Linked DNA regions of Homo sapiens: regions 1, 2, 3, 4 and 5 are each linked to region 6. The links come from fine-mapping of genetic effects on gene expression. A gene starts in region 6. Each other region holds a variant in brackets. All regions are shown on one strand. Distances are from middle to middle. Region 1 holds the start of LOC124906363 (small nucleolar RNA U13). Region 2 overlaps SEMA5B (semaphorin 5B). Region 3 overlaps HSPBAP1 (HSPB1 associated protein 1). Region 4 overlaps PARP14 (poly(ADP-ribose) polymerase family member 14). Region 5 has its middle 56 kb from the start of PARP14. Region 6 holds the start of PARP14 (poly(ADP-ribose) polymerase family member 14).

Region 1 (5,076 bases), 70 kb before region 6:
CTGCCTTGTTCACAGCAAATACCAGTAGTTTCCTAATGTGAAGCCCAAAAGCTTCACATCATTTCCATCTACTCTGCTCTTAATAGGAAATCTCATACTGAGTCTGGATAGATGCCATCCTTCTTGACTCTGCCCATTGCTTTTGTTTATTATACCTTCCTATTTATATCTTAACGTTTAATAAGTGGACCTTTGCAAGTATCTCCTGTCCTTCTCAGACTCTCTCGATACCACTATTTTAACCATCCCCCTACTTAGAATTTCTCAACAACTCCTAGTGCCTACCAGATAAAATCTAGATTCTGAAGTCCGCTGTCCCTAAACTAATTCCCCTACCTTATCTCCCATTATTCCCTCTGTGATAGTAAGACTGACCTACTTGCTATCTTCTGTAGTCCTACCTCCCTCACCTGTACCTCTTATCCTTCCTGGCATGTCCTCATTCTTTCTGTGTCTAAATTCTCTCCTAGCCCGGGTTCAAATCACACTTCTTCCATCCATGTTGCCCCTGACCTCCCTAGTTCATGCCTGTTTCACCCACCTCTGAAATTCTGAAACACCATTGTCCCCTGATTTACCACTTCTATAATGCCACCTTTCTATACTTTATCTTCTCATTGGCTAGATTTTGAGCTGTGAGAAAACAGAAGCCACGTCCTATGTGTTTTACCTATGCCCTTTCTCAGAATGCACGCAACTATTTTGTGACGGAAAGGAGGAAAAATTAGAATCTCAGAATCATGTACTAAGATTTAGGTGCAGACAAAGAAGGCCCAGGATTAAAGAGAATAGAGATGCTGGCAGTATCCTTTGTAGAACATGTGAACTTGTCAATAAAAAAGGAATAAAAGGAAAAAAGGTTTGCGGGGTTTTTTTTCTTACTTTACTTTTCTCCAGCAATATTATTGTGAATTCATTTGTATTCCTTTTTTTCCTAGCAGCCTCAATTAGGGTCTGATTCTGACATAAAAATGAAACGTCCTGTTCTTGTGCTAACCATTCTTTGTTTGGTTTTCAGGTTCTCTTTGTTCCCAGACACTGGTGGCATTACGTAGAATCCATTGATCCTGTCACTGTCAGTATAAACTCATGGATTGAACTGGTACTTTTTCGTTGTTTTTTTTTTTTTTTTAAGTAAGTGCAAATCATGCTTTTAAAAGATATATAAGGTCTGGCTGTACAACTGGGTAATTAATTTTTTTTAACCAATGCTTCAGTATTTTTTTGTTGCAGTGCACTATAACGTATGCATTCTGTCTTCTGTTAATGGATGTTTAGGTTGGAAATTGGAATTTTAGTGGTGTGCCACTCTCTTTCTTTTAAGGACACAGAATGCGCCTGATGCTGGCATGCAGGGTCCTTTCCCTTGACCAGTGTTGTTAGGAAAATTGTATTGGGCCTGGCCAGATTTGCCGATATGTGTCCCTTGTTGCCGCTCCTCTTTCACACCATCTGGGCTGGAAATACCTGCTTCTTGGTTCAGGGTCATTACTAATTGCAGAATTCTGTCTTGGCTTCTACATATTCTCAAAGCGGAGTCTTTCTTTCAGTGCTAGGTTTTTATCATTTCATTTCTGCCAGAAGCCTTTCCCTCTGATGTGTTAAGCTTAATCCTGGTTGCCTGCTCTATTTGACAATTAGAATAGCTGCTTGTTATGCTCAAGTCTGTCTCTTCAACTGGGGCCTTAATTGCAGCTGCCTCTCTTTAACCAGAGGCCCTGACTGCATCTCTGCTCTCCTTGACCTGAAGCCTGGATTGCATCTTTCTGCTCTGTTTGACAGCCGTATCCTCTCCCTAGTCTAGTTTTTCCTATCCTTTGCTAATAGGAATGGCTTTGGAATCAGTGGAACAGAAGGAATATTGTTACAGAAAGCTATGTTGTGTGGGCTTAGTGAAGAGTTGTAGCCCTTGAGGCTTAAGTGAGAGGTATGGCAGGAGATCAGTAGCGTCACAGAAATTTCGCCTATAGCATGCTGAACTGGAGTTGCAGCAGATGTCAAGGTAGAATCCATGGAGAACTTCCACTCCCAATGCCAAAGTCATATCTACAATAGCCCTGACAGGTGCTTCACCTCCCAAGGAAGTTCGCTTGTTGTTAAAGAGTAGAGCTGTCATCTTTTTAAAATATTTGAAAATACCTCCAAGTTTTTCCATAATCTTTTCTTCTTCCATGCTCAAAACCTCTTACTTTCTTTAATGGGGTGTTTTTATGGGTGATTTTTTCCTTTTTCCAGACTTTTTACCATTCTGGCCATAGACTTTGGAATCAGGCAACTTTAAGATACAGGTTACCTTTGTTAGCTGTCTAACATAGATAATTACTTAATCTCTTCAAGCCTCCATTTTCTTGTAAAATGAGGATTATAATTGAACCCACCTCAGTAGAGTAATTGGACAACACATTGTAAAAGCATCTAATATAGTGCGTGGCATATGGGAAGTGTTTAAAAAGTAGAAATTGCTATGAGGAGGAGGGAGAGCTATTATGTCAAGAATAGTTCTCTTAATATATAGTGCCTAAAACTGAATATCAGTAGGCCTTATTTGGTAGAGTATAAGATTTCTACCCCACATGATCTCGATCCTAAATATCTCCAGTGCTGCTTGTAATATTGGGTTAGTTTTT[T/A]AAGTAATCTCATCTCACTTTAGTTTCATATTCAACTTTAAAATATCTGTGATTTTTTTTCACATGATCTGCTGTCAGGCAGGTTGAATCCTATCCTGTACCTATAAAGCTGATTTTAATTCTAAATCCAGTATTTCACAGTCATCCCTGTTAATTTTCATCATATTGGTTTGGTTGAGCATTCCAGCTTGACAAGATAATTTTAAATTTGGGTCTTATCTGTCATTTTAGTGAAACTTCAAGCTGGCCTGTGCCCTTTTGATATGTCCCCGTTAATTAGACTTTGAGTGTATCCTGGCTTTCTGGCACAGGAAGATATCCCAGGATACCCTTTCTCCTTTAGTGCCCCACACTTGGAAGTCAATCATTTCTCCAGGTAGCCACAGTTCTTTTTGTAGGAAATGGCATTTAGAAACTGAGATCTCAGCTCTAAATCTGTTCATTGCTCCTGGGTGTCAGTGTTTCTAGGCTCTTTCAGTGATGTAGCTAGAATGTGAGATAGATAGATAGATTAGATAGATAGATAGATAGATAGATAGATAGATAGATATTGATGTATTTATATTTCTAATTCATGTGTTTAAAAAATATATCTAGACAGGTAATATGCTGACGTCATAACAAGGCTTAAGGGAGGCATGTCTCACACATGAGCATGACACCCAATCATCAGACTTATGAACTATAAAAGTATCTAATTCAAGTTTAACATGATAGAATTTTTTATTTGTTTCTGTATTTTTATCTCTTCTCTTAACACTGAAAATCTGGGTCCTTAAAAACAGTAACATAAGGCCGGGCACGGTGGCTTACGCCTGTAATCCCAGCACTTTGGGAGGCCGAGGTGGGTGGATCATGAGGTCAAAAGATCGAGACCATCCTGGCCAACATGGTGAAACCCTATCTCTACTAAAAATGCAAAAATTAGCTGGGCATAGTGGCACGCACCTGTAATCCCGGCTATTCGGGAGGCTGAGGCAGGAGAATCGCTTGAACCAGGGAGACAGAAGTTGCAGTGAGCCGAGATCAAGTCACTGCACTCTGGCCTGGCAACAGAGCGAGTCTCTGTCTCAAAAAAAAAAAAAAAGAAAGAAAACCAGTAACATATTTACTTGTTTGCTGTATCCAGCAATATATTTTTTAAGATATCAAATTTGGCCGGGTGCAGTGGCTCACACCTATAATCCCGGCACTTTGGGAGGCCGAGGCGGGCAGATCACATGGTCAGGAGATTGAGACCATCCTGGCCAACATGGTGAAACCCCTTCTCTACTAAAAAAATACAAAAAATTAGCCGGGCATGGTGGCGCATGCCTGTAGTTCCAGCTACTCAGGAGGCTGAGGCAGGGGAGTCACTTGAACCCAGGAGGTGGAGGTTGCAGTGAGCTGAGATCGCGCCATTGCACTCTAGCCTGGTGACAGAACAAGACTCCATCTCAAAAAAAGAAAAAGATGTCAAATTTATGTTTCCAAAATTCAAATAGTAATATTACTACTAACCATAAAGCTTGCAAGTAAAAATTAAGATTTCTTTGCAATTCTTTTTATTATTAGACTGTATCTATCACTAAGAGGGATAGATACAAAGTCCTTTATTCAGGAGTCATTGTGAAGGAATTCTTTTCATTTATGGTTATTTTACTAATTGGATATTTAGTTAAGTTCATTTGTTTCAGTTTGTTTTCAATTTTAGGATTTACCTTTTTAAAATTTTGATCTAATTTAATATTTTAAATATGTAGAACATTTAACTTGTCAAAACTATGTTAAAAGTTATACTCAGGGAAGTCTGCCTTTCATCCCTGTTCCATCCACTCCATTTTTCCCAACCTTTATAGAGATCCATTTTTATTCATTTCTGGTTTATCATTTCCAGTGTTTCTTGTAAACATATATATCTATATCTATATATAAAAGTAAGTAAATGAATAGATATATTTATATATGTAAATAAGTATATAAACAGTCTTATATGTACAAAGTGCATAAGCATATAAATATGTCTTTACTTATTTATATACTTATTCAAATATATTTTAAATTTTCTATCCTTTATTCCATAGAAAGTAATAAACTATAGTGTTCCATACCTTGCTTTTTTCAACAATAATATCTTGAATTTCACTACATAATAGTACAGAGAAATATTCATATTTTTCTTCAACCACTGTCTAGTACTTCACTGTATGGGTGCTCTACTGTTCATTAGTTCCTTTAAGGATAGATGTTTGGGTTGTTTCCAGTCTTTTGTAATTACAAATAATGCCACTGAATAACCTTGTGCATATGTTGTTTTATATTTGTTGAAGTGTGTCTTTGGGGGAGATCTTAACAATGGATTTGCCATGTCATAGGGTAAATGTATCTTTAATTTTGTTAGGTTTTGCCAAATTCAGCTTCATTGTGATTGTGCCATTTTGCATTTCCATTAGTAGTATGTGAAAGTGCT
Region 2 (5,067 bases), 230 kb before region 6:
GCTGCCTGTAAGAGGTTGATGCCCCTTTTTGAGTGCTGAAGGAAATAAATTCAGGAGTGGGCTTTGCTGAGTTCTCATTGGTTGAATTTGCTAGCAGTCCTCTTGATCCCAATGTCAGCCAGTAAGCAGAGTCTCAAAACCACAGGTTGCTGGGACTACTTGTGTACATGTGTTGCATGTAGTCCCACGATGTCCAGTTTGATGGACTCTACTGATAAAACACCCTCAAATCAAACCATTGATCCCAGAGGAAAATATGACCACATTTATCTTGTACAATTTACCCAAATTGTCCTTGAGTGAATAAACTGGAAACAGATACCCCAGCAACAGTTAAGTATTCTGGATTCCTGGGTGGGCCACAGTGTGCTCACCGGGCTCCCATGATTGCCTCGCTTATATGAGGCTGCGGGTTGGCCAAGAGCAGCAGATAGTACTGTCTTCTTTGCCCTCCTTTGCTGACAAGGAGAAGCCCCACCCTCTTCTTTGTATAATTAACCTCATTTTTCTCTGGGGCCTGACATGATCTATTGAACCCACTGCAAGTTAAGAATTCACCTGACAGGTTACTCTCCCTGAAGCTTCAAGAGATAAGAAAAATTCTACCCCAGGGATGCCAAGAGCTGCAACTCTTAGCTCTTCGTTTGTTCTTGGTGTATCTCTTTAGCCCTAGGCATCTTTGGCCCCTTTGTCCAATGGGAAGATCCCCCTGCAAACTCACAGAATGTTGTGAACTCCCCGCCAGGCTCCATCTTCTTTGCAGTCCAGTACATCCTTCTCCAAAGCCTCTTCTGTTTTCCAACCTCCAATTTCTGAGCCCATGCTTAGTGCTCTCTCCAGACCCTCTTCAGCAGACTGGCTCAGAAGGGGGTGGAAGCTGGGGACAGGAACCAGAGGGATCGAGGTATCCCCCAGGATTGGCAGTGGGCTGAATGTTGGAGGGACCCTCCTTCTGGCACCAGGATTGGATACTCTCTGTACTTAGCAATGGATAGCAAAGCCTGATTCCATAATCCCCACAGACTTTTTCTCCCCTTTCAAGTCCTACTAGTGGAGATTAGATTTTTCTGTTAAAAAATTACATGAAGACATCAAAAGGAGAAAAAGAAGAAAGAAGCTCTGGACTATGAGAAGTGGAGGCATTTGGGGCATGCATCAGTGTGTGAACCAGTTATCATTTTGGGGCCACTGTAGAGAGACCAGCCCTCAGGGTTGAGGAACCGAGAACTGGGATGTGACCGCCTACAGCTTGAGCTCATTCTCAAGATGCTAAAGCACTAGACTCTGATTCCTGCCACTAAGCAGCACAAGCATGTGGGTGCTCCAGGTGACCATGGACAGTACCCAGGTGTCTGCCGATCCTGCGCTGTGTTTTGAGGGATGGGCTCATATTCAGTGTGTGAAATCAGACACAACCTCCCGTGGGAAGCAGAAGTGTGAGGGGAAAAGCGTGGTCAGAAAGCTTAGGTCTGGGCCCAGCTCCACCACCTATGATCTGTGTGATCTCAGGGAAACTACTTATCTCCTTGCCTTGGTACAATGAAAAGGTTGTATAGTGGATCCCAGAGGTTCTCAGCCTCGCTCCCATTAGAATCACCCAGGGAGCTTTTAAACACTACTTCGCCCCTAGAGAGTGTTGAGTGGGGTGGGCTCGGGTATTGGTATGTTTTGAAAGCTCCTCAGGTGATTCTAATGTGCAGCCAGGGTTGAGAACCATCTGTAAGGCTTTTTCCATCTCTAATGTTTTATGACTCTATGATCATAGCATGTGCCAGGGAGGCATTTCCTCTTTGGGTTCCTGTTAACCACATCTGCACCTGTGGCTGTGGGTGAGGAGTATGGGGCACCCATATTTGGGGAAAGCAGTGCCGTCTCTTTTAAACGTGCAGTCTCTGGAGGATGAGGGTTTGAGTCCTGGGTCAGGTCACTGGGTTTCCCCCAGATAACATGGGAATAATAACAGTACCCACTTCATTGGGGTGCTGGATTTAAATTAATTCATGCTTATAAAGTGCTTAAAATGATGCCTTACACACAGTAAAGGCCCAATGAACTTCATTATTATCATGGAGGACAAATGGATGGAAAGTGGTGCACAGAGGGGAGTGTTCACGTGTGTTCCTGAGATGCAGGTGAGGCTGGGAAGCCAGTGGGCTTGAATCTCAGGACGTCTGTCTGGCAGGGCATGCCTGGGGGCCCGGGACCCGTACTGTGGCTGGGACGGGAAGCAGCAACGTTGCAGCACACTCGAGGACAGCTCCAACATGAGCCTCTGGACCCAGAACATCACCGCCTGTCCTGTGAGAATCCCCTTGTGTCCTCCCATCTCAGACCCCTCCTTCAATTCAGGCTATGACTCCCCACCAATATTCCCCCAATCCCCTGAGATCTTATGACTTCCCTGCCCTTGGCTTGGGTAATAGGGGTACTGTCTCCCATGTGTGTCTTCAGGTGCGGAATGTGACACGGGATGGGGGCTTCGGCCCATGGTCACCATGGCAACCATGTGAGCACTTGGATGGGGACAACTCAGGCTCTTGCCTGTGTCGAGCTCGATCCTGTGATTCCCCTCGACCCCGCTGTGGGGGCCTTGACTGCCTGGGGCCAGCCATCCACATCGCCAACTGCTCCAGGTATGTGAGGACAGGGTTTACATGGTGTCTGCCTTGGACCAGGGTGGGGAGAACTAGGGAAACGGGGACCCCTCACTTGGGTGTTTGCACTAAGGGACAGAAACCACTTCAGGGCTGTGCTAGGGACTGGATAGGTGGCTAATATCTGAGGCAGGAAACCTGAGCCCTGAGGGAGTTTCCACGCTAGTGAGAGAGAAGTTTCTATCTCTTGGTGACTCTTGATGCAAAGTGGAATGCTGGGCAGGCATGGAGGTCACTCCTAGACAAAAGCGTGCCTCAGTAAGTCTCATCCCAAACATGAGGAACAGCATGGGATGATGGCAAGGCAAGCAAATCTAGTGCCAATTCCGGATTGCCACTGTCTGGAGGTGTGGCCGTGGCCTAGCCACCTAACCACTCTAAGCTTCTCTTAGTGAGGGTTATAGTACCCACCCAAGAGTTGTTGGGAGGGTTAAATGAGATAAGGTATATACAGAG[C/T]TTGCACAGTGCCTGGTACCTGGGGACTCCATTAGACACTTTTTCTTTTTTTGAGACAGCGTCTCACTCTGTTGCCCAGGCTGGAGTGAAGTGGTGTGATCATGGCTCACTGTAATCTCCTGCCTCAACCTCCTGATTAGCTGAGACTACAGGTGCCCACACCATACCCAGCTAATTTTTAAAAATTTTTTGTAGAAACAGGAGTCTCACTATATTGCCTAGGCTGGTCTCAAACTCCTGGCTTCAAGTGTTCCTCCCACCTCAGCGTCCCAAAGCTCTGGGATTACAGGCATAAGCCACCACACCCAGCCTTGGACACTCTTAAAAAAACTATTTCATACACATTTATTAATGTAGCCCTCACAGCAACCTCATGGGGGTAGGAATACAATCATTGTCCTTACTTTAAAGTTAAGAGTACTTTAAAGTTAAGTTACAGAAGGTTCTAGTAACTTGCCCAGGGTTTCACAGCCAGCAAATGGTAGAGCCCAGATTTGAAAATTGGCGTCAGAGTAGGCATGAGTGAGCAGTGTCTGAGGCTGGAGCAAAGCATGTGCAATATAGTACAGGGGACAGAGTGTTGGTTACAGTGCAAGGATTGGGACCAGCCAGGAAGGCTGAAAGGGAGGCTGCAGACTGGAAAGGGGACTAGGGCCTTCTTCTCTAAAGAGTCTGCCCTTTTGGCCCTTGTGAGATGGGGCCATGTCCTACCTCTACGTCCTTAGTCCTGAGCACAGCATGATATATAGAAGAAGGCTCTCAATACATGTCTGAAGGAGGAATAAATGAACGGATGGATGAGCGAGTCTGCCTGAGATGACCTGTTTAGGAGAAGATATTTCTATGTCACTGTCCAGCCCTTTCTGACAGCAGTAGAAAATACATCGGCCCAGAGACAGACTAGATCTAAGAAGCTAGGGCTCAGAGGGGCATCTGTCTCTGTCCCCTCCCACCCCGCCAGGAATGGGGCGTGGACCCCGTGGTCATCGTGGGCGCTGTGCAGCACGTCCTGTGGCATCGGCTTCCAGGTCCGCCAGCGAAGTTGCAGCAACCCTGCTCCCCGCCACGGGGGCCGCATCTGCGTGGGCAAGAGCCGGGAGGAACGGTGAGGGAGAACAGGCTTGCTCTGAGGTCCCAGACTAACCGGGCCCCCCAGAAAGTGGCCTGGATTCTCCTCGTGATCCCGGGGACTCTCGTCCTTTCCGGTCTTGCACTCCCAGGGACCTCTCGTCAGGGAAGGGGGTCCCCCTCCCTGGATTGACGCCTCTCCCCCGACCCCAGGTTCTGTAATGAGAACACGCCTTGCCCGGTGCCCATCTTCTGGGCTTCCTGGGGCTCCTGGAGCAAGTGCAGCAGCAACTGTGGAGGGGGCATGCAGTCGCGGCGTCGGGCCTGCGAGAACGGCAACTCCTGCCTGGGCTGCGGCGTGGTGAGGGTTGGGGCCGTGGGCCAGGGGCGCGGTGTAGGGTACTGGAGCCGAGGGGAGGGCGGGCCTGGAGGCCGTGGGGTTCTAAAGCTGCCTCTGCCGCCACCCGCAGGAGTTCAAGACGTGCAACCCCGAGGGCTGCCCCGAAGTGCGGCGCAACACCCCCTGGACGCCGTGGCTGCCCGTGAACGTGACGCAGGGCGGGGCACGGCAGGAGCAGCGGTTCCGCTTCACCTGCCGCGCGCCCCTTGCAGACCCGCACGGCCTGCAGTTCGGCAGGAGAAGGACCGAGACGAGGACCTGTCCCGCGGACGGCTCCGGCTCCTGCGACACCGACGGTACCCCGCGCCCGGCGCCCCCTCCTTCCTCTCTCCCAGCCCCGGAGCGGTGAGGGCGGGGGCGGGAGCCCCGGGGAGGCCCAGGCCGGGGTCGGGGTGGCCGGGCGCCCAGTCGCTGAGGCCTAGCCCCTCCGCAGCCCTGGTGGAGGTCCTCCTGCGCAGCGGGAGCACCTCCCCGCACACGGTGAGCGGG
Region 3 (5,076 bases), 79 kb before region 6:
GACTTGAACAATCAACTTGATTTAATTGACATTTATAAAACACTCCACCCAACAACAGAAAACACTATTTCCAAGTGCATATGGAATCTTTATCAAGATTGATTATATTCTGGGCCATAAAACAAGTTTCAATAATTTAAAAGGATTTAACTCATACAAATTATGTTCTCTCACCACAACAGAATTAAATTAAAAATTCATGACAAAAAGATAGCTGAAAAATCCCCAAAAATTTGAAATTAAACATTACACTTCCAAATAATCCATAAGTCAAATAGTAAATCACAAGGAAAATTAGGAAATATTAGGCTAGTCCTTGACTATAAGTCAAGGCTGAAGAGATATGCTAAGCAACAGTCTGCAAGTAAGAGACAGGGAGGCCCAATATTAGCCTTGGTATAATTTAGTTGCTTAAAAAGAAAAGTGCCGTCTGACAGTGCATTAATGGTATGATGTGCGGGTCATGGAATGTTACAATTCCATGGATACAGGTTCTGTGTAGACTGTATCTGGGGTTCAGTTTGGGAGCCAGGCTTTAGGGCTGTTGACAAAGTAAAGGAAATTGAGAGAAGAGCAATTGGAAGGAAAAGTTAATGCTGCTGTGTCTAGGTTAAAAAAAAAAAAAGATAAAGGAGAAGTTGGACAGTTTTCTGATAAAAATAGCAATTTTTGGCAGGAAATAAACTTGTTCTCTTTAGTTATAGAAAGCAGATCTAGGACCCTCCTCTGTAAGCTACCAGGAAGTAGATACTGATTTTGTAGTAAGTGGTCAACTAGCTAGCTACTTGTCGCTCTTTTCAGGGATGGTGTAGAATAGAACTTGCTGAGAATAGATGATTTTTAAAGATTTTTCCAACTCTTGAGGTATGTATGAGTAGACTCCAGAACAGATCACCCCACTGATCACCCTTTTTGGTTTTACAGATGCAGCACTCAAACAGGGCCTCCTGTTTCTAGCAAGACTCAAGACAGATTCCTGGGCCCACATTGACTTCAGACATTTGACTACCCATAAGTGGCTGAACTTAATTGGGAAGAGAATCCCAACTCTCAATGCTGTCTATTTTTACACTGACAATTTTGCTTTTTTTTTTTTTTTTTTGAGACAAGGTCTTGCTCTGTCACTCAGGCACTCAGGCTGGAGTGCTGTGGTGCAAACATAGCTCCCTGAAGCCTTGACCTCCCAAGCTCAAGTGATCCTCCCTTCTCAGCCTCCCAAGTAGCTGGGACCACAGGTGCATGCCACCACGCCCAGCCAATTTGTTAAAAAAAAAAAAAAAACCTTTTTGTAGAGACAGAGCCTCACCAAACATTGCCCACGCTGGTCTTGAACTCCTGGACCCAGGCAGTCCTCCCACCTCAGCCTCCCAGAGTGCTGGGATTACAGGCATGAGCCACTGCACCTGGCTGACAGTTTTGCTTTTTAAGTCATTATTACTGTTAGACAGGAGGCCAGGGAAGTCTCTCCTCAGTTTCTCATACAGTAACCTCACCCTGTAGAAAAACCTTCAGTGATTCTTTCCAAAGCAGGGCTCTAGAACAGGGTTTTTCATGTGGGGTTGGTCTGTCACCTCTTTGAAAGTATATATAAAGTTTCGTGTGTGCTTTTTTCTGAGGAGAAGGGGCTTTGGTATTCATTAGATTCCTGAAGGGATGTATCTATAAGATTAAGAATCACATGACCTATCTCTTCTTAGCTAAGGCAAGTCTCTCTTTTTTCCTTTTTATACTGAATGGCTTTCAGCTACCTTTAGTTAAATTCCTCAGACTGAGGTGTGGTAAATTGTTCAACAAGGACCAGGTTAATTGGAAGCCTCCCCTAAGCTCCCTGGCTGGGTGCAGGGCCCTCCTGCTGTGATCTTAAAGCATTCCCTGCATACTTGTGTCAGAGCGCTTGTTACATCATATTGAAAGGCTCTGTTTATGGGATTATCACTCATTATTAGACTTGAAGGGTTGGCCTGTGTTATATTAATTTTTGTATCCCCAGCACCCAGCATCATACCACGTATATGGTAGGTACTCAAAAATGTCATTGGCCTGAACTATTTTAACCATCATAAGTCAACAGATTCTTCTTTCCCTCCCAAGCAGCCAGTGTGTTCCAAGCTGTAACCCTGAGCCAGGTACTAAATTAGGCATTGAGAAAACAGGGGTAAGCTCCCAGTATGGAGCTTATAGGCTACATGCAGAGAGAACAGGATTTTTGCCACCCACTGGAACTGCCACATGTGAGCCATGTGCATTTACAGTGGTGCTGACCTTGCAAAAATTCCCCCTTCTATGACAGACATTAATTATGTGCACGTATTCAGCCATTTTCATCACTCAAAGCAAAAATGAAAAAAAAAAATGCTCTTTCTAGTCTTCCTCAAAACCATCCATTAAATTTCTCTTTAAAATCCTTTCTCTTTGAATACAGCTGTTAATGTTTTCCCTCTAAAAATAGAAAATTTAGACTGTAGTTACTGATAAAAGGAGTGTCAGCATTGAGAACGATGTTCTGCACATAGAAGTGGGGTGTTTTTTTTTTTGCTTTTATTTTTTAAAACTGAAAGGAAAACCTCATGATTAAAATAAAAATAAGGCAGAGCCATCATGCCTGGTTCACTAGTATGTTTTTTTTCTTTTCTAGCTTATAAATCTGTTTAATCACATGGATTTGGGTTTATGTGTGACCCTATTTTTCTGTGCTGCAAATGCGCCATCGGCTTCTAAAAGTATAGGCTTTTCCCAGTAGTTGACTTGGGCAGGATTTGCTCACAGAACCAGGCATATGGAGAGTCTTAAGTCCAGAGCACTATGCTGTCTCTGTTCTAAAGATCATTGCACTTAAGAAGTTCATGACTTTGGGGAGTATATTGAAAGCCATCCATGGATGTATATTTCAAAAGATGTATTTTGACACCCTCATCTGAAGACTGATCTAGTAGGTATGAGCTAAGGCTCCAGCATTGATAGTTTTAAGTAACCCCACTAATGTAGGAGAAGTCTTCATTTATGTGGTCATTGAAGTACACAAAGTTAGTAAGTTGCGTATGTACACAAATATCTGCACTGCTTAGAGGAA[A/G]TACGGCTTTCTGACTTCTTCGGTTGTGTCTCAGAGATATTTGAAATAATGCCATTTCCGCTGCATTCACTGTTCTAACTGCCCAAAACACGCTTTCCCTAAATATCAGCATAATCCTGTCTGTTTATTGTCTGTTTCCAACTCTGAAATGTAAGCTTCATCCGAGTAGGCATTTTGTCTCTTTTGTTCATTGATTCATTACAAGCTTCCAGAACAGTGCCTGGCATGTTGTAAGTAGTCAGTAAATATTTGTTGAATGATTACTATTAGTGTGGTTATTCAAATATGTTATTGGCTAAAAAGATTTCTTGAACTGCCCTGGAAACCTAACCTCTTCCATCTGTAGCATTTTCCATAATAGAATATTCCAACTGCTAAATAACAGATGTGCAAGTGAAAATGGGCAGCATTACCATACAGAGAAGTTGGTTAGTTCTTGATGGATTGCAACTTTATTTCAAAACAGGATGTGAAATGGTCTGACTTCGGGTTTCCTGGAAGAAATGGACAGGAAAGTACATTGTGGATTGGCTCCTTGGGAGCCCACACACCCTGTCATCTGGACTCCTATGGTTGTAACTTGGTATTCCAGGTACAAGGAAGGTAATGTGTGTGTGTGTGTGTGTGTGTGTGTGTGTGTGGAACGCACATGTGCATGCATGCAATAGGGGTGGCAGAGAGAATAGGGCAATACCCCAAGGTGTAGTCCCAGCCCCATCCTGTCAGCCTGCCTCATGATTAGGGCAGACCTCTTAACCTCTGGTTTTGGTTTCTCCTCTGTGAAATGAGGACAGTTAAAATGGTGGTTTACAGGTGCGTGCCTTGTCATGATCAGGATTGTCTTCAGAGAGTTTATTCTAGAACTCTGAGATTCCACTCCCAGGTCAGCTAGACAGCTCTCTGCTTGGTCTTTTTTTTTTTTTTTTTTTTGGTAAATTAGAGACATTTGAGACAGTCTTGCTCTGTTGCCCAGGCTGGAGTGCAATGGCATGATCATAGCTCCTGGACCTCAAGCCATCCTCCTGCCGCAGCCTCTCAAGTATCTAGGACTACAGGTGTGTGCCAGTATGCCCAGCTAATTTAAAAAACTTTTTATTTAGAGATGGAGTCTTTCTGTGTTGCCCAAGTATGGCCTCAAACCATACTCCTGCCTTGGCCTCTCAAAGTTCTGGTGTGAGCCACTATGCCCAGCCTATGCTTAGCTTTTCTTTTTTACATAAGAGTTTGTAGTTTTCAAACTTTTATTTAAAAATGGGAACACCCTTTCTTCAAATCTAAATAAATAAGAGCAGAGCAGTTTGTTGAAAGGAAGAGGCTTCACTGTTGCCCTCAAGCTCCTCTCCAAGGGATGCCAGCGATCCTGGTTTGAAAAATACTGGACGCTTTCAACTCTAAATTTTAGTTTGTGCCTACTTGACACAATACAGTGTATTGTTACCTTAGGTCAGTTTTTGTCTCCATCTATCTGTGGACTCTAGAAGATACGAGGGATAGGCAGTGCTTTTGATATACCTGGTTTCTGGAGTTCTATGAGAGTCTAAGTGTTTGTGCCACTTGGAGGATGTACTCAGATGTATGTGCAGCCTTATTTTCCCCTAATTAATGATGCCCCAGTCTTTTCTCCTGGTCATGTGGGACATTTACAGGGCAGCACAGAGAGTAAAACAGAAAAGGTCATGTGCAAGTTCTCAGACCTATTAGATGTGAAAAGGATTATGAGCAGATTCAGGAGAAATAGTCAGTATGTCTGTGGATACATTTCACATGTGAAGAACTCTGAGAATTACAGAATGGTAGAAGTTAGTCCACTCTCTGATGCATTCCGTCTTTATTAAAGGGCATAGAATGTGTCAGGTACATAGCTACACGCTGTGGATGCAAGAGTCAATCAGATGAGTGTGGTCTCTATCCTTGTGGAGTTAACAGGCTGAAACCTTAAACTTGGTAAGAGAGACAACATTTTAAGTAGCTGCTGTCCATGTGTTCTGAATTGGAAACAAGCCAAA
Region 4 (5,073 bases), 41 kb before region 6:
AAATTTTAATTGAAAACATGAATATGGCTGGGTGCTGTGGCTCACACTTGTAATCCCAGCACTCTGAGAGACAGAGGTGGGTGGATCCCAGCACTTTTGAAGTCAAAAGTTTGAAACCAGCCTGGATAACACGGACTCCATCTCTACAAAAAAAAAAAAAAAAAAAAAATAGGCGTGGTGGCATGTGCCTGTAGCCCCAGCTACTCTAGAGTCTGAGTGGGGAGGATTGCTTGAGCCCAGGAGTTGGAAGCTGCAGTAAGCTATGATCACGCTGATGCACTCCAGCTGGAATGACAGAGCAAAACTTTGCCTCAAAAAAAAAAAAAAGAAAACATAAATACAAGTTCATGATTTTCTTAGCTCTAGCCACAAAAGACCCTGGAAACAGCAACACCTCAATAGCAGTGAACACACGCAACACACGACTTTTGGTTTCTCACTACCATTCCCCACTAAAAGGTAACATGGCTTCTTAGAAAAATGTCTGATTCCAGGCACGAGACAAGGAAAGTACAGGATAAGCAAGACAAATCTCATGGCAAAAAGTAAAGAAATGCTCAAAGATTAATGGGGTCATTAAAAGACATGGGACCCAACTTCCTGCCAGCCAAATGGAGGATAATGTGTACATCTAACAGAATAATCACTGTAATTAAATATAACATACTGATTTTTTTCAAAATCAGGAAAAAAGAACATTTATTCTTCAAAAAAATGCCAAATAACATATACAGAAGGAATGACAGAATTAGAAAATCAACATCCTGCAACCTCCAGTGTAATGATGGATTCAGGCAAGGATCATCAATGGAAGTGAAAGTCAATCAGTACAAAATTGTTGGGGAACAGGATACTCATATGCTGACGAAGTATCATCCCACAGATAATCTACTGATTCCAGTGGAGAGAAATGGTGGTCACCCACTTAACTAGTGATCAAACTTAGCATCATTAATAGTGGGATGGCCTTACCATCTGAGGTTCCTGATGTGATGTATCACCTATGAAGTATTCTTGCAAAAAATATTTATCTGAATTTACTCAAACCTTTCAACCTAACTCAGCTTACCAGAAATAAAGAGGATAGAGAAATAAATGATATTATCAAGAATCAGATAAGTCTAGAATCTATAAAACTGGCATGGATTCTTCCACAAAAATCAAGGCATGACAGATCCAGAATGTGATACATTCTACAATACAATTGGCTTAAACTCTAAAAAAATTCATGTCATGAAAAATAATTTTTTAAATGCAAGAGTACTACTCTATATTAGAAGACACAAAGGAGACATAATGTCCAAACCGTGTGTGAACTCAGACTGGGGTTGGGGAGGGGGAGTTATAAGAGATTTTTTTGAACAACTGGAAAAATTAGAATATGGACTGTGGCCAGATGTGGTGGCTCACACCTGTAATCCCAACACTTTGGGAGGCCCAGGCGGGGGGATCACTTGAGGTCAGGAGTTCGAGACCAGCCTGGCCAACATGGTGAAACCCCATCTTTACTAAAAATACAAAAAAAAATTAGCCGGGTGTGGTGGTGGGCACCTGCAATTTCAGCTACTTGGGACGCTGAGGCAGGAGAATCGCTTGCAACCGGTAGGCGGAGGTTGCAGTGAGCCAAGATCGCGCCACTGCACTCCAGCCTGGGTGAAAGAGCAAGACTCCGTCTCGGGGAAAAAAAAAAAAAATATGAAATGCATATTGGATATTACTGAATTAATGTTAAGTTTTTAATTGGGATAATGGCATTGCCATAATTTAGGAGAATGTCTTTAATTGGGAGATACTTGCTAAAATAGGAGTATCATGATGTCTGCAACTTACCTTCAAATGCTTCAGCAAAAACAGACAGGGAGAGAAAGCAAAAGTGGCACAATTGTTGAATCTAAGTGGAAGGCTTATGGATATTAAAAACCTTAATCATAAGACATAATAGTCATAGAGGATGACAGACCACCCATTTTTTATGTTATTTTCACAATTCTAGGGACCTCCATGGAGGCACCTTAAGTACTACCCACACCTCTGCTTTTATCTGGTTCATACACTGGGATTTCACATAAGATTTTATTGAAAAAAAAGGTTTCACTGCAAAAAAGTGTTGAAATCAATTCTCTGGCCAGGGTCTGCCAATACACAGCAGGCATCCACAGGGCCCACTGTAGATATTGCTGGTCAAGCAGAACATTCATTCCTGCTCAATCTAAACTTAGCATCTCATCACAATGTGCCAATCAGCCACTACCAGTTAGTAGTAATTGGTACTTGGAGTGAGACTTACTTGTTATCTCAGAAATAGACCATCATAGAGCTGCATACTTGAATCATATTGTCTTGGTGCCTCATAGAATTGTTTTCATTCAATCAGGCATCGGTTTTGTTCAACCAGTTTTACATTAAAAAAAAACAGTGATATAAAAGTTGATATTTAATTTATTGTGAGGATGACGTTGAGGATATTCTCTAGTACTTGATCCACAAGAGAAATCTCTCAGGAGTCAGTCTCAGTATTGTGAGGAGCTGTGAGCCTCCTTATCAAATGGTTTGCTTTTTGATTTACGGACATTATGAGTCTTGTACCTGAATGTTTACTTCTTGCTTTGTCTACTAGGAAGCTCAGGGACAAATTGGTAACCTCATGTTATATATTTTTGAGAACTAGCAGTTCGTCTGTATTATCTTATTTTCCCTGCCATTCTTTTCTCTTTAACCATTTTTCTTTGTATATTTATTTTATCTGAAGGTATAGTTTATATCTTTGTAGGGCACTTTGAATCTTTTTAAATTATGATGTACTTAACAACATGAATAAACAGTGTTGGCAGTTCAAATAGAGAGTAAGAAAAATTTGCAAAGAAAATGTAGGTCTTACTGGCAGACTTATGGTGGATCAAAGATCTCCGGCTTTACTCAGAAAGTGGTAGAACCAAAAACAGAAATGAGGAAGGAAAGGGAAAGAGAATTACTTACGTATGATGCATTAGATTTTAGAGAAGTTGATTTTGCAGTTAGATATTCAAGTGGAGATTTTTTTTTTGAGACGGAGTCTCACTCTGTCGACCAGGCTGGAGTGCAGTGGCGTGATCTTGGCTCACTGCAATCTCTGCC[A/G]CCCATGTTCAAGCAATTATCCTGCCTCAGCCTCCCAAGTAGGTGGGATTATAGGCACCTGCCAACATGCCCGGCTAATTTTTGTAGTTTTAGTAGAGACGTGGTTTCACCATCTTCACCAGGATGGTCTTGAACCCCTGACCTCGTGATCCACCCACCTCGGCCTCCCAAAGTGCTGGGATTACAGGCGTGAGCCACTGTGCCCAGCCTCAAGTGGAGATTTTTTTAGGCCACTGGGAGTATGTTCTAGAGCTTGAGTCAAAGACCCAGGTTGGTAATGTTGATTTGGGAGCTATTGACATTGAACTAATAGTTGAATCCAAGAAGGGTAAATATATTCCCTGGTGAGGTACAGAGACAAAAGACCGTTTAAGCATAAATGGCGTGAATAAAGCTAGAATTAGGGGTTTGGAAGAGAAACAGCGTGCCTGCAAAAATGAAAAGAAAATTAGTCAAGGAAAAAAAAATCATAATAATTTTGCTAGAGAAGTCAAGGAAAATATAATTTCAAACAGCAATATCAAAAATGTTTAAAAATGGAAGAAGATGCCAAAATAATTGGTTGTTTTTATTTGAGAGCAGGATCTCACTATGTTACCCAGACTGGCGTCAAACTCCTGGGCTCATGCAATCCTTCCACCTCAGCCTCCCAATAGCTGGGACTACAGGCACGAATCATCACATTCACCTGCCCAAAATAATTATGATAAACGAGAAAAGGCCTGCTGGCTTTATCAAGGAAGCACTGTTGATCTGTGAATAATGGGGCAGAGTAACATGGTCCTGATCTAAGGAGCCTCTGCATGGCTCTCTGTGGAATTTGCTAGCTATCAAATCCAATTTTAAAGCCATATCTTTGAATTTGTATTAGCTTGCTTCACAAAGTAAATATATGTCTTTAGTGTTCTATCATATTACAATCAAATATTGTAATCACTGACACAAGAATCTTAATGCCTCAGTAATTATGGTCACATGAGTAGAATCTAGAACTACTAATTACCATACAAATTCTAATTCTGGGTTTAAAAAAATGTGATAGGAAGTGAATGAAAATGGATTTTATATAGGACCATGACAGAACTTATTTCCACCATCCAGAAACTGCATTCTAGCAGAAGGCTTACCTTCTCTATTCTGAAGTGTGAGCAGGTCTGATTAAACTTGCTTGCCACCGTGTTGTACTCAGGATCACTAGGCAGCAGCTCCACCACACAGAAATTCTGCTGCTTCATATCACTCCAGTGTGCAGGGATGTCAACTGCAAAGGAGACATTTGAGGATGCCCTCATACATCCCCGGTACACTCTGGAACATTTAGTATCTGTGTTCTTGTTTTACTATCTCCCAATTCTAAGCATTCAAAGAGTTCCTTATCTTTCTAGGAGAACGCTTTTCAAAGCATGAACAACAGACAACCTACATCAGAACCAACTGGAATGCTTGTTAAACAAAAAAAAGGAAAGCCACAGATCAACTGAATCAGCATCTGTGAGGGGCAGAGCCTGTATGTCTGCCTCCTAAGTTTGGATCATACTACGATTTGAGAACTGTTGGTGCAGTATAACTCATCTGTGTTTTCTGTTCAATCTCTAGTAGTCACAATTTCACAATAAATTATTTCCCTACAGTGTTCTAAGTAGTTGCTGTTTTGTTTGTGCATGGATTTTTGCCAGAACTCCTCACCATCACCACCACAGGCACTCTACATCTATTTTTTCATTATTCTTCATAGCATCTTTAAGAGGCAGTTAGGTGGCAGATTTTGCTATGTGACAAGCTGTGGTGACAGCTCTGTCTTCTCCTCTGCTAAGCAGAATACTATATGTGATTTATCATTTCCCCAGGGTTGCTCAGAGTCTCGGGAATCTGTTCACACTGATCTCACAGGAGATAAATATAGTGTAATGGAAGCCAATTTACTCATTTTCAAAGGGGACTTAATCTGGTTCGAAGGTA
Region 5 (5,076 bases), 56 kb before region 6:
AGTTGTGGGTTCAGTATGAGGCCTCTTTAGGCAAGGAACTTGGACATCTAGGGACACCAATCCTAGGGCTAAAAAGGACTCAAACTCCCCAAACAGTGACTAAAGGCTTAGCTCAGTGAAATTGATCCCACTCTCATTACATTTGCAAGATCCAGGGATAATTAATTACCATTACTGTCTAAGAAGGAATTTAGAAATTAGAAAAGCATATTGATCTCTGAGTAACCATGCATGAAACAAATACACAACAGAAAAGATATGCAAAGTCACCTTTGAGATGAACTGATTGCTGGCTATCCTACTGTCCTCGAGGTAATGAGTATCAGTAAATCCAAAGAAAGTATGTGTTGTCACAGAGGGAAGGAGGGTATTGTTATGTAAGCATGCCAGGGAAAGAAGGGCCTGAAAAGAGCCCTTCTGTGGCTTTTATCTCCATCGGACCACTATGTATTTACCTATGAATTTCATTACTATCTCTCTCAACCAAAATGTAACTCCTTAAGGGTAGGGACTGTGATTATTGCTGTTATTTGTAGAGCCGCAATGAGTACCCAGCATGTAGTAGGTGCTTATTAAATATTTGAATGAATGAATAATAAAAATGAGACCTCATTGACAATACCTCATCAAGTACATTGGGACAGAGAATGTGGCCAAAGTAAGGTAGCTGTGATTCTTGGTATAGTCCTTTATTTATTTATTTATTTATTCATTCATTTTATTATTATTGTACTTTAAGTTTTACAGTGCATGTGCACAATGTACAGGTTTGTTACATGTGTATACATGTGCCATGTTGGTGTACTGCACCCATTAACTCATCATTTAGCATTAGGTGTATCTCCTAATGCTATCCCTCCCCCTCCCCCCACCCCACAACAGGCCCCGGTGTGTGATGTTCCCCTTCCTATGTCCATGTGTTCTCATTGTTCAATTCCCACCTATGAGTGAGAACGTGCAGTGTTTGGTTTTTTGTCCTTGCGATAGTTTGCTGAGAATGATGATTTCCAGTTTCATCCATGTCCCTACAAAGGACATGAACTCATCCTTTTTTATGGCTGCATAGTTTTCCATGGTGTATATGTGCCACATTTTCTTAATCCAGTCTATCGTTGTTGGACATTTGGGTTGGTTCCAAGTCTTTGCTATTGTGAATAGTGCCGCTATAAACATACGTGTGCATGTGTCTTTATAGCAGCATGATTTATAGTCCTTTGGGTATATACCCAGTAATAGGATGGCTGGGTCAAATGGTATTTCTAGTTCTAGATCCTTGAGGAATCGCCACACTGACTTCCACAATGGTTGAACTAATTTACAGTCCCACCAACAGTGTAAAAGTGTTCCTATTTCTCCATATCCTCTCCAGCACCTGTTGTTTCCTGATGTTTTAATGATCACCATTCTAACTGGTGTGAGATGGTATCTCATTGTTTTGATTTGCATTTCTCTGATGGCCAGTGATGATGAGCATTTTTTCATGTGTTTTTTGGCTGCATAAATGTCTTCTTTTGAGAAGTGTCTGTTCATGTCCTTTGCTCACTTTTTGATGGGGTTGTTTGTTTTTTTCTTGTAAATTTGTTTGAGTTCATTGTAGATTCCGGATATTAGCCGTTTGTCAGATGAGTAGGTTGTGAAAATTTTCTCCCATTCTGTAGGTTGCCTGTTCACTCTGATGGTAGTTTCTTTTGCTGTGCAGAAGCTCTTTAGTTTAATTAGATCCCATTTGTCAATTTTGGCTTTTGTTGCCATTGCTTTTGGTGTTTTAGACATGAAGTCCTTGCCCATGCCTACGTCCTGAATGGTATTGCCTAGGTTTTCTTCTAGGGTTTTTATGGTTTTAGGTCTAACATGTAAGTCTTTAATCCATCTTGAATTAATTTTTGTATAAGGTGTAAAGAAGGTATCCAGTTTCAGCTTTCTACATATGGCTAGCCAGTTTTCCCAGCACCATTTATTAAATAGGGAATCCTTTCCCCATTTCTTGTTTTTGTCAAGTTTGTCAAAGATCAGATAGTTGTAGATA[T/C]GTGGCATTATTTCTGAGGGCTCTGTTCTGTTCCATTGATCTATATCTCTGTTTTGGTACCAGTACTATGCTGTTTTGGTTACTGTAGCCTTGTATAGTTTGAAGTCAGGTAGCGTGATGCCTCCAGCTTTGTTCTTTTGGCTTAGGATTGACTTGGCGATGCGGGCTCTTTTTTGCTTCCATATGAACTTTAAAGTAGTTTTTTCCAATTCTGTGAAGAAAGTCATTGGTAGCTTGATGGGGATGGCATTGAATCTATAAATTACCTTGGGCTGTATGGCCATTTTCATGATATTGATTCTTCCAACCGATGAGCATGGAATGTTCTTCCATTTGTTTATATCCTCTTTTATTTCATCGAGCAGTGGTTTGTAGTTCTCCTTGAAGAGGTCCTTCACATCCCTTGTAAGTTGGATTCCTAGGTATTTTATTCTCTTCGAAGCAATTGTGAATGGGAGTTCACTCATGATTTGGCTCTCTGTCTGTTATTGGTGTATAAGAATGCTTGTGATTTTTGCACATTGATTTTGTATCCTGAGACTTTGCTGAAGTTGCTTATCAGCTTAAGGAGATTTTGGGCTGAGACAGTGGGGTTTTCTAGATATACAATCATGTCATCTGCAAACAGGGACAATTTGACTTCCTCTTTTCCTAATTGAATACCCTTTATTTCCTTCTCCTGCCTAATTGCCCTGGCCAGAACTTCCAACACTATGTTGAATAGAAGTGGTGAGAGAGGGCATCCCTGTCTTGTGCCAGTTTTCAAAGGGAATGCTTCCAGTTCTTGCCCATTCAGTATGATATTGGCTGTGGGTTTGTCATAGATAGCTCTTATTATTTTGAGATACATCCCATCAATACCTAATTTATTGAGAGTTTTTAGCATGAAAGGTTGTTGAATTTTGTCAAAGGCCTTTTCTGCATCTATTGAGATAATCATGTGGTTTTTGTCTTTGGTTCTGTTTATATGCTGGATTACATTTATTGATTTTCGTATATTGAACCAGCCTTGCATCCCAGGGATGAAGCCCACTTGATCATGGTGGATAAGCTTTTTGATGTGCTGCTGGATTCGGTTTGCCAGTATTTTATTGAGGATTTTTGCATCAATGCTCATCAAGGATATTGTTCTAAAATTCTCTTTTTTTGTTGTGTCTCTGCCAGGCTTTGGTATCAGGATGATGCTGGCCTCATGAAATGAGTTAGGGAGGATTCCCTCTTTTTCTATTGGTTGGAATAGTTTCAGAAGGAATGGTACCAGCTCCTCCTTGTACCTCTGGTAGAATTCGGCTGTGAATCCATCTGGTCCTGGACTCTTTTTGTTGGTAAACTATTGATTATTGCCACAATTTCAGAGCCTGTTATTTGTCTATTCAGAGATTCAACTTCTTCCTGGTTTAGTCTTGGGAGGATGTATGTGTCGAGGAATTTATCCATTTCTTCTAGATTTTCTAGTTTATTTGTGTAGAGGTGTTTGTAGTATTCTCTGATGGTAGTTTGTATTTCTGTGGGATCGGTGGTGATATCCCCTTTATCATTTTTTATTGCGTCTATTTGATTCTTCCCTCTTTTCTTCTTTATTAGTCTTGCTAGCGGTCTATCAATTTTGTTGATCTTTTCAAAAAACCAGCTCCTGGATTCATTAATTTTTTGAAGGGTTTTTTGTGTCTCTATTTCCTTCAGTTCTGCTCTGATTTTAGTTATTTCTTGCCTTCTGCTAGCTTTTGAATGTGTTTGCTCTTGCTTTTCTAGTTCTTTTAATTGTGATGTTAGGGTGTCGATTTTGGATCTTTCCTGCTTTCTCTTGTGGGCATTTAGTGCTATAAATTTCCCTCTACACACTGCTTTGAATGTGTCCCAGAGATTCTGGTATGTTGTGTCTTTGTTCTCGTTGGTTTCAAAGAACATCTTTATTTCTGCCTTCATTTCGTTATGTACTCAGTAGTCATTCAGGAGCAGGTTGTTCAGTTTCCATGTAGTTGAGCAGTTTTGAGTGAGTTTCTTAATCCTGAGTTCTAGTTTGATTGCACTGTGGTCTGAGAGACAGTTTGTTGTAATTTCTGTTCTTTTACATTTGCTGAGGAGTGCTTTACTTCCAACTATGTGGTCAATTTTGGAATAGGTGTGGTGTGGTGCTGAAAAAAATGTATATTCTGTTGATTTGGGGTGGAGAGTTCTGTAGATGTCTGTTAGGTCCGCCTGGTGCAGAGCTGAGTTCAATTCCTGGGTATCCTTGTTAACTTTCTGTCTCGTTGATCTGTCTAATGTTGACAGTGGGGTGTTATACTCTCCCAGTATTATTGTGTGGGAGTCTAAGTCTCTTTGTAGGTCACTCAGGACTTGCTTTATGAATCTGGGTGCTCCTGTATTGGGTGCATATATATTTAGGATAGCTCTTCTTGTTGAATTGATCCCTTTACCATTATGTAATGGCCTTCTTTGTCTCCTTTGATCTTTGTTGGTTTAAAGTCTGTTTTATCAGAGACTAGGATTGCAACCCCTGCCTTTTTTTGTTTTCCATTTGCTTGGTAGATCTTCCTCCATCCCTTGATTTTGAGCCCATGTGTGTCTCTGCACATGAGATGGGTTTCCTGAATACAGCACACTAATGGGTCTTGACTCTTTATCCAATTTGCCAGTCTGTGTCTTTTAATTGGAGCACTTAGCCCATTTACATTTAAAGTTAATATTGTTATGTGTGAATTTGATCCTGTCATTATGATATTAGCTGGTTATTTTGCTCGTTAGTTGATGCAGTTTCTTCCTAGCCTTGACGGTCTTTACAATTTGGCATGTTTTTGCAGTGGCTGGTACCGGTTGTTCCTTTCCATGTTTAGTGCTTCCTTCAGGAGCTCTTTTAGGGCAGGCCCGGTGGTGACAAAATCTCTCAGCATTTGCTTGTCTGTAAAGTATTCTATTTCTACTTCACTTGTGAAGCTTAGTTTGGCTGGATATGAAATTCTGGGTTGAAAATTCTTTTCTTTAAGAATGTTGAATATTGGCCCCCACCCTCTTCTGGCTTGTAGAGTTTCTGCCGAGAGATCCGCTGT
Region 6 (5,076 bases):
CTAAATGTGCCAGTCTGTTCTCAGATTGTGGGCAATATTTATGGGCACAAGTATTTCAGGAGAACAGTTGGTAATAATATGGGTATATGATCTCCAAAAAGGAGAAAGTCAATCTGGGAGGAAAAAGCTGAAACTCTGATGTCCAACCTCCCTTACCCAAGTGGACAGTCTTCCACCTGCACCAACTTTAGATCATCAACATTTAATTTTATTTAAGGAGAAGATGGGTTCTTACCACAAGGAACCCGACAACAACCAGGAACCAAACTATGTTGGTAAAGTATGATAAAATAGACACATCTGAAACAGGGCTTAAAATGTTATGTCAATTTACACCAACTTTTCAGAAATCCAGTGAACTATATAAAAGTGAGATACAGCTTCCCATTTGTTTCTATTTGCTATACATGAATAAATACGGAGAAGTGCTGGTGGGCTCATTCTTGTTATCTGCCTATTACAGTTTATATGAATCAAATCAGGTTATGCTATGGGCCCGCACCTGTTGAGGCCACTTCCTGGCATGGAGGGTGGAGAGTGTCCTCTGCAGAAGAAGAATGCACTTCTGGGACTTCAAGCGTAGGTCATTCATTGTTAGCAAATTCCTGACCCTTGTTACTGAGAAAGTGGTTCCTCAAGTAGGAAACTGAAACTGACTAGGGATTTTCCACCCCCAAGAACTTAGACCATACTAGGTTTCGAGTTTGTTTTTGTTTGTTTGTTTCTTTTTGTTTGTTTGTTTTTGTTTTGTTTTAGATGGAGTCTTGCTCTGTTGCCAGGCTGGAGTGCAGTGGTGCGATCTCACCTCACTGCAACCTCTGCCTCCCTGGTTCAAGCAATTCCCCTGCCTCAGCCTCCTGAGTAGCTGGGACTATAGGCGCACACCACCACGCTCGGCTAATTTTTTTGTGTGTTTTAGTAGAGACAGGGTTTCACCATGTTGCTCAAGGATGGTCTCGATCTCCTCAACTCGTCATCCACCTGCCTCAGCCTCCCAAAGTGCTGGGATTAACAGGCGTGAGCCACCACGCCCGGCCGGTTTTGAGTTTTAATAAGTTTTGGGTCATCTGTGCTGGGGGGTAAGACAAGAGGGGCCACTGGAGCAGCCTGGGGGTGGAGGAAGAGGAGTAGTGGGCTGGGGCCGGTCAAGGATGGAAGCCCAGCAGGAAGACTGAAATCTTTTCTGCTTGGAGGGCTAGAATTGAGTTATTTTATCATCACAAAATTATACTTTGTGCTATTTGTATTTTCATGCTGTTTAAATTTGTATAATTATTTCTTTTTGTTCATTTGGGGTTAACATTAACTACGGAAATTCTGAAACTTGAACACATTAGGGTCACCTGGGCTGCCGGTTAAATACACGCTTCCCACCCACCCCACATTCACTGAACCTGAATCTCTAAAACAGAGCTGGGAAGGTGCCTGGTTAACCTGCTCTCCAGGTGATTCAGATGCAGGTCAGACCTACTTCTAAGGATAATGGAATCTAAAGGAGAAAGAAGCATCCTTAAGGGCCAGATCGATGGTGATGCTGACCTCTGAAGTCAAAGTGGGGAAAACCCTCAAGGAAAAGTGACACCCAAAAGAGAAATGACTAATATCACACAGTTGCCCTTCTGAGCACTCCTTGGTAAAATTAATCCTAGGAAAACATGGTATTTTGTTTTCATAAGGGCCATGAGCCAAGCATATCTCCTGTCCCCCTCCTTCCTTCCTTCTGTGCGCCATTCTTTTTCTGTTTCATTTTTCCTTTTTGGATCCCTGCTTGGGCACTCTAATTGCATGGCCTCAGCCTCAGCCTCCTTGCCTCTCCTCTGGCCCGAATGCTTCTCCAAATCTAGCGACATGAAAGCGGAATTAGGGGTTGACTAGATCCCGATAGGTCATCATCCATAAGATGCCAGTGGAAAAGGTGCCCATTCTGGGAGCTGCAGGTCACTGGCTTCCCATTGCAGACCAGGGAGGCCCTTGAGCCAGCAGATCACCTCTGGGCTCTTGGCCCACCAAGTAGTGGTGGGTCTGTAAGGAGGGAACTTTGCCGACTTTCCCTCCAAAGCTCAAATCTCCCAACCCACAATCACTTCAGAATATCATCCTTGCTCCCAATCTGAGGGCCACTAGAGACTCGGAGAAGAGGCCCCGGCAGGCCCTCGACAATGGGCACCTGTGGTCGATCGACAGCCCCTCCAATGTGGCCGCTGTGACGGCTCTACGTTGACATTCAGGCAGTGTGATTTTAGGTAGCGCCTCTGCCCCTCTCCCAAGTGACCCCGGGACCCCTGGGAATCTCCAAGAACCACAAGGAATCTCTGTGACTTGCCACGTTTCTTAATCAGTTTCCTTCCCCACACAAGAATAATAACAACAGGAAAAGACAGAAAAGGATGATAAGAGGATAGACTCACTTCCACAACAACAACAACAAACAATAACACCACCACAACAGGGAAAGACAGAAAACGATCGAGGGATAAAGAGTTACTTGCGCGGTTCCGCCGCCACCTCCGGGCCGCGCCATTAAGCGCCTGGAAGCGCAGGGCGCCGGGGAACCGCAGCGCCCCGGGTGCGCTCGGAATCCATTCTGCCGCCCCCGCCCCCGCCCCCGCCCCGGCCACCTCCGCTACAGCAGCCGCCGAAGTCGGGCGGGTCACCCTCCCGTGCGTGCCCTGCCGCCATTTCCCTGGAGGGAGGGCAGAGGTGCCCCCTCCTCACCCCACCCCTCGCGCCCCTCACCGTCCTCCGGGTAGAAGAACACCAGGAAGCGGGATGGGCTCCTGGGATCCTGGCGGACCTCACACTCGCCGCCTCCCGACCTCTTCGGGCTCTGGAAGTACATCTGCAACTTGGTGTTCAAGTTCTTCGGGGGGTCGGGGCCCCAGGAGCCCTCGACCAGCAGCGGGAAGGAGCCGGGCACAGCCATCCTCAGCTCCGCTCTCCGCCGGACTGCAGGGGCCGCGCCAACTCCGGGCCGCTAACTTTGACTCTTTCGCTTTCGTTTCCTGGAAAACTCCCAGGCCTTGGTTTCCTTTTGCCTTCAGCCTAACACAGCGGACCCAGGAATGGCAGAGTCATCCCCCGCCCACCTCCCCACCTTCGCATTCGGCCCACAGCCAAGGCCAAAGTAACCCTTTGGGGCTGGCCAGCGGCGCCCCGGGAAGGCGGCCTCAGTTCACCTGTGCTCCACGGGCTCCCACACCCCCTCCTAACTCCGGGCCCCCTACCTGCCGCTCGCCCCAACCGCAGATCAAGTCGGCAGCTTTGGGGCACCAGACCTTGCCCAAACGCAAAGATCATTTAATTTTTGCCGCAAGCCGACCCTTTACAAAAGAATAAAATGACTCACAAACTGTGGCCCCTTTAGAATGTTTGCTGCCTATTTGGGGACTTTTTCAGCAATCATTGTGATTATCAGAATTTTACGTTGCTTTCCCTGTTTTGCTTTCTGTTCCTTGATCTGTTAATACTACATGTCTAGAAATGTGGGGGAAACAATTACACTCACAGTTTTTTTTGTGGAATATTTACTAGGCGCCATGCACTCACTCACTGAACCCTCGCTGAGCTCACGGAGCTATGGTGAACACAGTGGGCAATAGGTGCTCTGGGAAAGAATATACTTGTGTTCCTGGAACAGATGAGGAGTGGCTCCTAGTCCAGCTGTGGCGGCTCAGGGAGGGTTTATAGGGCGGTGACATGTAACCTGATAACCCCAGGATATCAGGGGATAGCCTTGGAGGGTTAGGAAGTGGGGTTCCACGGTGTGATTCACATGTACAGGATCACTCCGGCTGCTGCGTGGTGGCTAGAGTGGAGGCAGAGAGATCAGCCAAGTGGCTACCATAGTGTCCTAAGTGAGAGACAAGGGTGGCTGAGACTGGGGTGCTGGCAGAGAAGAACTGAGAAAACGAGGATTCTCAATTAATAGTGAAAGCAGGACTTGCTGAAGAATGTGAGCCTTGAGAGAAGGAGAAGCTCAAGGATGACTCCATGGTCAGCCATGGATGGCCCGTGCAAGTGGCTGGATAATAGTGGCATCTGCAAGAGGGGAGGCCGAGTGATGGGAGAGAAGCTGGGGCTGTGTGTTTCCTTGACCCCAAATAAAGCAGTGTTGCAAGTCGAGGGGGGCGGGGGGATTATCATTCCAGTGCTACCGATACCTCAGGTCAGAGAAGTGTCTGCTGGACTGCTGAGGAGCGGCAAGCATAGTCTCCTGGTGAGGAGGGAGGAGAGGGAGATGGCAGCTACTGAAGACTGAAAGGGAGGGAAGGAAGTGGAAGCAGAGAGCGTAACACGCTCTTTGCAGAAATGTGACCGTGAAGGGGAAGAAGGAGCCAGGCAGTAGGTTGTGGGGTTACAGGATCGGGCTGAATTTCAGAATGAAGAGAACCAGAGATGGGCCAAATGGTTTACCTGGCTTTTATTTCGGCTCTGTAATAATCCTAAACAGTACACAGATATTTTCTCCTGCCTCCAGCTTGCTACCTGCAGATGGCGCTCATCATCTGATCCAAAACTGCTCTGGACCCCCGCATGCGGAAGACGGGAGGACAAGCGCCCTCAGCCAGACTTGGTGACTGTTTCTCCCCAGGGCCTTTACATCTCATCCCAAACCACAACTAAAATCAGCACTCCTCCTCTCCCACTCTCCCCTGAGTTTGGGGTTCCAGAACTCAGCAAAAAGTTTCCCTTTTTCCTCACATAATTATTGTATAAGAAATAAAGTCAGAGGCATTTCTGGATTACTTTCGAGGATTTATTTAATTATCGACAATGTGTCTTACCACCGAGGTCTGCTTATCATGCCTGGGTGGACTGGGAAGGAGCTATCAGAGGATCAGGATGGCAGGTCTTGAAAGCCAAGGAAAGAAAGTTCTAGAAGGGGCAAATTGTTGAACGGCATTAGCTCCTGCAGTACTTTGTTTTCTGCAAGTTATTTTTGCCTTGTTCACTTGAAGAATGCGTATCCTCTCACAATTCTCTGTTTCCTGTGGGTATCTGCCTTCTGATCCTTTCTTCCTGGGAAGCACGTGTCTTCTCAGGGCCTGGGGTGGGGGTGGCCTGCTGTAGAAGTGG

Evidence for each region. PIP is the estimated chance that this variant, and not a neighbour inherited with it, causes the effect.
Region 1: its variant is fine-mapped to the expression of PARP14 in whole blood (INTERVAL, PIP above 0.99).
Region 2: its variant is fine-mapped to the expression of PARP14 in whole blood (TOPMed, PIP above 0.99).
Region 3: its variant is fine-mapped to the expression of PARP14 in whole blood (TOPMed, PIP above 0.99).
Region 4: its variant is fine-mapped to the expression of PARP14 in whole blood (TOPMed, PIP above 0.99).
Region 5: its variant is fine-mapped to the expression of PARP14 in whole blood (INTERVAL, PIP above 0.99).

Annotation. Positions count from the first base shown.
Region 1 is chr3:122,748,617-122,753,692 of GRCh38, reverse strand. HSPBAP1 (HSPB1 associated protein 1) reads left to right here. Exons shown (of 8, transcript NM_024610.6): 6 at 1,019-1,102. It overlaps LOC124906363 (small nucleolar RNA U13), which reads right to left and starts at 3,321; the gene lies at 3,218-3,321. The variant T/A (reference allele first, on the strand shown) is at 2,628.
Region 2 is chr3:122,913,006-122,918,072 of GRCh38, reverse strand. SEMA5B (semaphorin 5B) reads left to right here. Exons shown (of 23, transcript NM_001031702.4): 13 at 2,183-2,300; 14 at 2,452-2,633; 15 at 4,072-4,215; 16 at 4,392-4,539; 17 at 4,649-4,874; 18 at 5,012-5,067. Among named protein-coding and RNA genes, the nearest start is that of LINC02035, 29 kb to the right of the region's middle. RefSeq lists an enhancer at 4,233-4,733. The variant C/T (reference allele first, on the strand shown) is at 3,111.
Region 3 is chr3:122,757,821-122,762,896 of GRCh38, reverse strand. HSPBAP1 (HSPB1 associated protein 1) reads left to right here. Exons shown (of 8, transcript NM_024610.6): 4 at 3,537-3,673. Among named protein-coding and RNA genes, the nearest start is that of HSPBAP1, 33 kb to the left of the region's middle. The variant A/G (reference allele first, on the strand shown) is at 3,071.
Region 4 is chr3:122,719,557-122,724,629 of GRCh38, reverse strand. It overlaps PARP14 (poly(ADP-ribose) polymerase family member 14), which reads right to left. Exons shown (of 17, transcript NM_017554.3): 15 at 4,242-4,375. Among named protein-coding and RNA genes, the nearest start is that of PARP14, 41 kb to the right of the region's middle. The variant A/G (reference allele first, on the strand shown) is at 3,115.
Region 5 is chr3:122,734,663-122,739,738 of GRCh38, reverse strand. No RefSeq gene overlaps it. Among named protein-coding and RNA genes, the nearest start is that of PARP14, 56 kb to the right of the region's middle. The variant T/C (reference allele first, on the strand shown) is at 2,027.
Region 6 is chr3:122,678,731-122,683,806 of GRCh38, reverse strand. It overlaps PARP14 (poly(ADP-ribose) polymerase family member 14), which reads right to left and starts at 2,968. Exons shown (of 17, transcript NM_017554.3): 1 at 2,737-2,968. The coding sequence starts at 2,923. RefSeq lists enhancers at 555-744, 765-844, 2,230-2,319, 2,861-3,260, 2,685-3,457 and 1 more and a silencer at 2,571-2,620.